2 separate regions of the Homo sapiens genome follow, and region 2 is reported to be linked to region 1. The links are microRNA targets in miRTarBase. Many come from high-throughput screens and were not tested one by one. Region 1 holds a microRNA gene; the other region holds the end of a gene's coding sequence.
Evidence for each region. The annotated mature microRNA hsa-miR-6510-5p reads CAGCAGGGGAGAGAGAGGAGUC and lies in region 1 at 2,158-2,179, opposite strand. An mRNA with a match to its seed (bases 2 to 7 or 8) in the 3' UTR can be bound and repressed. Matches are read on the target gene's strand: a 7mer-m8 pairs with bases 2 to 8, a 7mer-A1 pairs with bases 2 to 7 and ends in A, and an 8mer does both.

Region 1 (4,067 bases):
TTGTATTTTTAGTAGAGACGGGGTTTCACCATATTGGCCATGCTGGTCTCGAACTCCTGACCTCAAGTGATCCACCCGCCTTGGACTCCCAAAGTGCTGGGATTACAGGCATGAGCCACTGAGCTGGTCAAGATTCTGAACTACAAGAATACCCATCTATCTCATGCAGAGAATGGAATGAGCACTAGATCTTAACTACCACTAGCCCAGCCTCTATCATTTACAGAAGAAACACGGATCCAGAGAGAGGAAGTGACCTGTCCCAGGTAACAGCCAAGGACCAGAGTGAGGAGTCCAGATCCTCCCTCCTTGCTCAGTTCTCTTTTCACAGTCCCTCAAGGCTGCTTAGGGACACCCTGCCATTCCCTTAGGATGACCCTGCACCCTAGCCACAAGCAGCCCTCATCACTCCTTCCCCTGTGCCCAGGCGCCTACTTGGCATCCTGGCCCTCGAGCAGGCTGCGGTAAGTAGCGATCTCCTGCTCCAGCCGTGTCTTTATGTCAAGCAGCATCTTGTACTCCTGGTTCTGAGCCTCCATCTCGCATCGGAGCTCACTCAGCTGGGCCTCCAGGCCACCAATGAGCCCCTGGATCTGCTGCAGCTGCGTGGCATAGCGGCACTCTGTCTCGGCCAGTGAGTTCTCCAGCCCAGCTTTCTGGGGGAGTGACAGATGCATAGACACATCAGGCTAGAAAGGAAGCCACTGAGGGCAAGCAGGGAGGGGGCACTGAATGGAGTTCAGGGAACCACCTCTTGAGGGGGCTTGAGAACTCCAAGGCTTAAATAGCCAGGAAGAGTGGGAGCTTCTACCACCCGAGAGGCTGGGATGGGGCGCGAGTGGCCGTACCATGCTGAGCTGGGACTGCAGCTCGATCTCCAGCTCCTGCATCGTGCGTCTCAGGTCTGTGATCTCCGTCTTGCTGGTCTGGATCATTTCTGTGTTGGAGGCCACCTCTTTGTTCAGCTCCTCAGTCTGTAGGTCATGCACAACAGAAGTGAGCCCCGGGGCCTCCTCGGAGACTCAGGGACCTGGGGCAGGAAGGGCAGGGCAGGATATAAGGCCCACCTTGCTGAAGAACCAGGCCTCGACATCCCGGCGGTTCTTCTCCGCCATGGCCTCGTACTGCTCCCTCATCTCTGCCAGCACACGGGTCAGGTCCACACCCGGTGCTGCGTCCATCTCCACATTGACCTGGCCGGCCAGCTGGCTGCTGAACTCCTTCATCTCCTGCAGGATGGGAGGGACCCACTTAGAGACGGAGAGCAGAAGAGAGACCTGAGAGTCTGGCGTCACACATGCCAATCCTGGCTCTGCCCGTAACACACCCCAACCGCTGTTCCCCATTGCACATGAAGAGGTTTGGTCACATGGACCCCTCAGCTCTAAGGAGTTCTCTGCTGCTCTAGGTCCTACCAAGGGAGGACCCCGAGACTGTAGGGCCCTGATGTGAGCTCACAAAGCCAATCAGGAAGTCAACCATTCATACGGGCCACCTGGGCTGGCTGTGGGCCTGGGCTACCAGACACTGCCCCTTCCTCTCCATGAGGACACCTGGTTTTGTGGGGTAGGTGTGTTTCTGAACCACTAAGCCCCAGGCCAACTATGAGGAAGTACCAACAGCCCCACTCTGCCTCCCACTGACTTAATCTCGTGAAAATCTGGGAGGGCTTCCTGGAGCCACTGTCTTTCCCTCTGGGCAATTTAAGTGAGTTTTGGGAAGAGGTTCCCCACCTCTCTCGGGTTCAGGGGTGATGGGGGCCAGCTCTCACCTCTTCGTGGTTCTTCTTCAGGTAGGCTAGCTCCTCATTCAGGCCCTCGATCTGCATCTCCAGGTCAGTCCTGGCCAGGGTCAGCTCATCCAGGACTCGGCGCAAGCCGTTGATGTCAGCCTCAACGCCCTGGCGCAGGGCCAGCTCATTCTCATACCTGAGGAGAGGGAGGCCAAAGAAGGAAGTGGGAGGGGTCTTGGCTGCCTGAGTCAGAGCCAGGAGAAGGCCAAGTAAAGTGGGCAATGCAGGAAGAGGAGAGAGACGGGGGAGCGCACTTGAGCCTGAAGTCGTCCGCAGCCAGCCTGGCATTGTCGATCTCCAGGATGACCCGGGAGTTGTCGATGGTGGTGGCCATGATCTGCAGGAGACAGAGTCGGTGTCTAGAGGACTCCTCTCTCTCCCCTGCTGCTCTCTGCTCTGCACCCAAGGCCAGCCCCTCATTGAAAATCACCCCTCACTGACAATCACCCCTCTGACACCACCAACAAAAATCTGTACGGCTTCTGGGGTGGGCAAAGTCCAGCCTCACTTTCAGTGTCCATTTCTTGTTTTGTCCCATCCAGCCTCCTTGAGACACCTGAGGAGCTGCCTTCCTTATCTCCAGGGCACGAAAGACCAAGGAGGCAGTATTGCCTGTGGGAATTGGTTGCCCAGGAGAGTGGGGCAGTGGGGTGCAGCCAGCTCTGACAATAGCTCTCTCAGAGACACTCCACCAGCCCCACTGTGGACAACTCATGGTCACTGCCTCCTGCACACCTTGGACACAGCCATGGATCTACAGAACATTCCAGCCAGTAGCAACCTGGAGGGCAGTTAAGAAGGCATTTTACGAATGAGGAACCCAGTCTTAGGGAGTAAAATGGTGAGTGAGTGGGTGGCAGAATGTGTAATGAGTTCCCAGGTCTCCTAAGACCCAACAGTACTTTTGGCACAAAAGACCTCTTTATAGGAAAAGACAAGAGGTTCTAGCATCTGGAACTCATGAGGCCACACTCCAATCCCATTCTTGCAAAAGAGGTAAAGGAATACTTTATGCAGAAGCCTGCAGGGTGCATGAGGTAGGGAGGGCGAGTTGCTCTTTTTTTTTAATTATTTTTATTTAATTAGATACAGGTTCCACTCTGTCACCTAGGCCGGAGTGCAGTGGCACAGTCATAGCTCACTGCAGCCTCTAAATCCTGGACACGAGCAATCCTATCACCTTGGCCCCCCAAAGCACTGGGATTACAGGTGTGAGCTACTGCCTCTGGCTCTTTATAATTGCCCCCACCTGTGCCCCTGTTGGTCCTAACCAGATTCCCAAGACCCCTCTCTCCCTCCCCCAGCACCACCAAGTTGAGAAGATGTGCACTGGCCTCTGCACCTGGACAGCAGGTGCATTCCAAATTTGCTGAGATTACATACCAGACAGTCATTGCCTGGGCAGGAAAGGATTTCCTTGAGTCAGCAGTAACACTGACATTAGAGCTGTGTACAGGGTACCAGCCACCTGCTCCCCTCTCTTTGACATCCGAGGACTCACCTTGTCCCGGAGCTCTTCAATGGTCTTGAAGTATTGGCTGTAGTCGCATTCTGGGCTGGTTGGGGTCTGCTTCTGGTACCAGTCATGGATCTTCACCTCCAGGTCAGCATTGGCCTCCTCCAGGGCACGTACCTTGTCCAGGTAGGAGGCCAGGCGGTCATTGAGGTTCTGCATGGTAATTTTCTCATTGCCAGAGAGGAGACCACCATCGCCACCACCAAAGCCACCACCAAAACCCCCACCAACGCCCCCTCCAAAGCCTCCACCGAAAACACTACCAGCCCCTCCACCAAAGCCACAGACCCTCATGCCACCCCCATATCCTCCTCCTGACCCTGAAGAGACAAACCTAGCAGAAGAAGCTGAGATACTTCGGCTTCCACCTCCCCCAGAGAGACTCCCCCCACCAAAGCCACCTCCCCCAGCCAGGAGGGAACCCCCTCGGGTTGAGCCACCCCCAAAGGTGGAGGAAGAAGTTTGCAGAAATGTGGTGGTCATGGCCAGGTAGCTGGAGCCCGTGAGTTCTCAGCAAACCCAAGAGATGCTGGCAGGAGGTACCAGGCCAGGCTGCACGCTGGGGCTCCTTATATACCCTTCAGAGGGTGTTGTGGGACCTCGTCTCCTCCCCTAAAGCAAAGCCAACTCCTTCTGCCTTCCTGACAAACACAGCTGCCTGCACACCTTGAGTGGGTCATGTGAAGTTTTTCTCTTCTATTTTTTTTTAATGCAACAAAAGAGATGATTCAGAATTAATAGTGTTTTTCCCCAGGGCAC
Region 2 (4,057 bases), not on the chromosome of region 1:
TAAAAATTTGATGAATACACACAAAGAGTTGTTAGTCAAACATCTATTAAACTTAGTCAAACATCTATTAAACTTAGTCAAACATCTATTAAACACAATTTCCAAAGCCGAATTCTAATGTTGTTTATAGCTCTGGATTGAAATATTCAGAGAATTGAATGTTCTTCTGGAGGTATGCAAATATGTTCTATTATAGGAACAGAAAGTTAAATGCATAGCAGTTGGAAACATCACCTTAATTTGTTCCTTCTAAAACCAATCAGACCCTGAAAAGCATTATATCATATACTCCAAGAGAGTGAGATGAATATTTGAAACCAGAGATAAACTTAATGCCACACATTAAAATAGCACTTTTCAAAAACAGTGAGATTATCTCCTTTGCTCCTCATCCTCACCCAGTGGGGTAGATGGGACACCAAAAGGAGGAAACTAAGTAATAATCAACTTGCCCAGGTGGCTACAGAGATAGTTTTTGGAAAAGCTACAATACAACCTAGAATTCCTGATTTTCAATTCTGATAAGTCATTTGACAGTAGCCAAAAGTTAATAAGAAAATAGTTTTTAACATGACTTACATGGGCCTTTCATTTCATGGGAAATTAAAACCATGGTGAATCTAAAGATTTTGTCCCCAAGCCATGCTGAGACTTACGGGTTATCATACTATTGGTTGATAGGTCTGCTTTTCCTTCTATGGCTAAGACAACTAGCACTCACCAGATTATTTTAGTAACTGGAAGAGGAAGAGGGGAACACAAGTGCCATACATGACCTCGTGCGACTCCACAAACTCTTTTTAAGCTTCTTGGAGAAATAAACAAGGTTTGTTAGTTGCAGAGGTAAAATGTGTCATAATCACCAAATTGATTCCTGTAGACATCTTCCGCTTGAGATGTATGCAAAGAATTTTTGTGAGGTACAAATTAGGTCAAATGTGTCCCGTGTTTTTTGTTTTGTTTTGTTTTTTTAAAAAGCAAAATTTTAAGGACTGACACAAGGGACATACAAAGGTTTGAACATCAAATTTTAATCTTGAAACCTTTTATCCAGTCCTCAAATTATTAACATGAAAAGGAGTGATAAATCGCAATTTTATCATTACCATATCACTGTGTAACAAGCCCTTGTTACAAAATCTCCCTCTACTGTCTGCAAAAAACCAATAGAAAACCCATACATTATATTACCTAATGATCTATTAACAGATGAAATTTTAACCAACTTTATACCAGGAAACTATGAACAGAGGTACTTCAATCACATAGCTTAAAATATGGAGAAAAGACAGGTAAAAAAATTATCTTAACCTGTAGTAGTCTTTTTTCTTTTTAAAATTTTTATAAAATACACTAATTTCCCAAAATAAAGAATATTATGACACATTGGTGTCAACTTACACAGATGAAAGCTGATGCCAGCTTTTTCCTAACTAAAGTTCATTTCACCAAACCTTTATATATTACATGAATATCCAAGTAAAGTATTTTTTTTTTAAATTCAACACACAGGAACATAATATACATTGTTTTTTTTTAAAAAAAAGGTTAATTTAGGAATGATTTCATCTTCAACCACATAAAGTATCTTTTTAAGACCATGAAACCTCTTGTCATTGCAAGACTTTTCAGTTCATGTTTCTATTTCCCAGTTTTAATTCTTAAAGGAAAAAAAAAAAGATGAAAGGGTTTATTATGTATTTCCCATGAGAAAACTGTGGTAAGGATCTTATTCATTACCAGGCTGTCTTCCCTCCTTTTGTTTTCCGGACTACCCAGATCCATGACTGCGTGGCACCGTAATGAAATCGGTGGGAGAGGCCAATGACATCAAGGAATGGATATAAAAAGACAGGCTCTTCTGGATCCTGCCACAATTGTAAGGTGTGGGCAAATTCACTCCCACCAAGCCTTCCAGAGCTCCACAGTCACAGGAGTAGTCTCCTGGTTAACTCATCCTTGATGTCTGTCTGCTGGGAGGACATAAAAGACCACTTTCACTAATGACTTGTGTAGTGGCTAATGCATGCCTTAGCCAGAGAGGGAGCGAGTGCACTGAAGAGACCTTGGTCAGTAGTGGCTTTGGGGTAGAGAAGAGAACACTGTTTATTTTTACACCTCCTGAATTGGTCAATTCTGAGTACAAACTCATCTTAACAGGAAATCGCAATGAAATATACACACCATGCACAGTCTATATTACTGTGGGAATCCAGTAATACATGCAAGACGTGGGGAAAGAATCACAATGGATGAATATGAACTTTTCACAGTGTTTCTTATAGCCTTTGACTTAACACGAGTGCATCACTTACCACCACTATCTCACAAATGTTTTACTTGTGTCCTGGGCATGCAGGTCAGTTGGGGTAAAATGTGAAATGACGCTTCATAGCCATTCTCAGACAGTGACTACAACTTCAATTTCCCCTACTTTCCAACCAAACAATTGAGCTGCTTCTGCTATAAAACTAAATATATTTCTAAATACATTTTGTTCAAGGGTTGTGCTGTATTCTTTCTCATTGTTTCAGTCACTTCATTCTAGGAAAATTAAAAACCCACACAATTAAATTGAGGACTAGGTCTTCAGGGTGATTCCTACCAAACTAGAAAGAGAGGGAATCACTAACTTCTCTTCTCTCAAGTTTCTGTCTCTCTACCCCAGGCCCTAATTGATACTGATTCATTTGTATGTTTGGTTTCCCAAAGAAGAAAACCAAATTAGAGAACTGGGATTTCTATCTTAAAGAAGCAAAACATAACCCCAAAATATAATGGTAGCAGGGAGGAGGAGAGGGGAAAATGCATTCACTCTATGTCAAAACGAATCTCTTGCTCTCAACAGGAGATAATCCAGCTTCTCCTTACCTATCATTTCATAAATTAATAATTTCTTAAAATCATAATCCAAAGAACGTATCTATTATACGAAAAGTTCAAGTTTAAAAAAGCAAATAAATTAGTTAAGCCTTGTAAACAATTGTCCATTTTAGTCATATATCTTAAAAAAAAAAAAAAGTTTCTCTGTGTAGTAAATCAGACAGTACAAGGCACACCTTATACATCCGAATCCAGACTAACAAAACCCACACAAACATCTTCTTCATTCTGCTCGCTGGGGTAACTGTGCTGGGGCATCAGAGTCACATACCAATCCTTTGCTCATCTCCTGACCATCTGGAAGTCCACAAATGTGCTCTTTCTGTTAAACTGCTTTGTGCTACTTTGTTGTGTGAAGTGATTTTAAGCTTCTTCAGTGTCAGTCTCCTCATATGTTTTCCACAAAGCTTCCTGGGAAAAGGCCAGTTTTCCCATTACGTTGTAATGTGCCTTTGAACCAGCCATCCTCTCGTTTTTTATGAACAAACACAATATCTCCTTCTTTAAGTTCAAGTTCTGCCTCACTCTGAGGAGGATAGGAAACCACCACCCTGTGCCTAGAAAAGAAAGAGATTTTGGTTAAGGCGATTCAAAGCAGTGATTTTAAAAAATGGTGTACTGTTAGTCTGCACGAACCTTCAACATAAATAGGAAATAACATTAATTCATTTATGATTGTAAAACAACTCAAAATACTGCTATTTTCTGTTTAGTAGAGACTTAGTACTAACAAAGACTGGATTTGGATATGTGTGTCAACCCACTACTGATGGCCCAGACTGGTTCATCTGAGTGACCTTAACAAGGACAGCCATCCTTGTTCCCTACCAGTGTTTGTATCTTGGCCATAAAGGAGAGTTTCATTTCATTTCCCGAGAGGGGTATCATTTCTATCCCTCCCTCTTCTCCAAGGAAACAGGAGTGAATTTATTTGATTGGTGAGACTGGGAGAAGTAGCTGAGCAGGGGGGGTTCAGTCCTCTCTGAACCGCCTGCCCACAGGCTAAGGAGGCTCTGCTCCACCTCTATGTTGTAAGCACACAGAGGTCAGGAAGGTGAGTCTGGAAGTCTGTCTCTGTGTCCCTACGTCCCTTACACTGGTGTTTGACATGGGCGAGGCAGCAATTCTGAGGAAGGTAATCTGCCCCACATACCCAGATTATCCCTTGGGAAGG

Region 2: the mRNA of SH3RF1 is a reported target of hsa-miR-6510-5p. Seed matches in the 3' UTR shown: 8mer at 2,782-2,789.

What each region holds. Positions count from the first base shown.
Region 1 is chr17:41,515,037-41,519,103 of GRCh38, forward strand. MIR6510 (microRNA 6510) reads right to left here and starts at 2,181; the gene lies at 2,128-2,181. It overlaps KRT15 (keratin 15), which reads right to left and starts at 3,854. Exons shown (of 8, transcript NM_002275.4): 1 at 3,294-3,854; 2 at 2,047-2,129; 3 at 1,772-1,928; 4 at 1,068-1,229; 5 at 849-974; 6 at 436-656. The coding sequence starts at 3,791. RefSeq lists an enhancer at 1,605-2,489.
Region 2 is chr4:169,093,248-169,097,304 of GRCh38, forward strand. It overlaps SH3RF1 (SH3 domain containing ring finger 1), which reads right to left. Exons shown (of 12, transcript NM_020870.4): 12 at 1,012-3,440. The coding sequence ends at 3,272. Among named protein-coding and RNA genes, the nearest start is that of CBR4-DT, 85 kb to the left of the region's middle.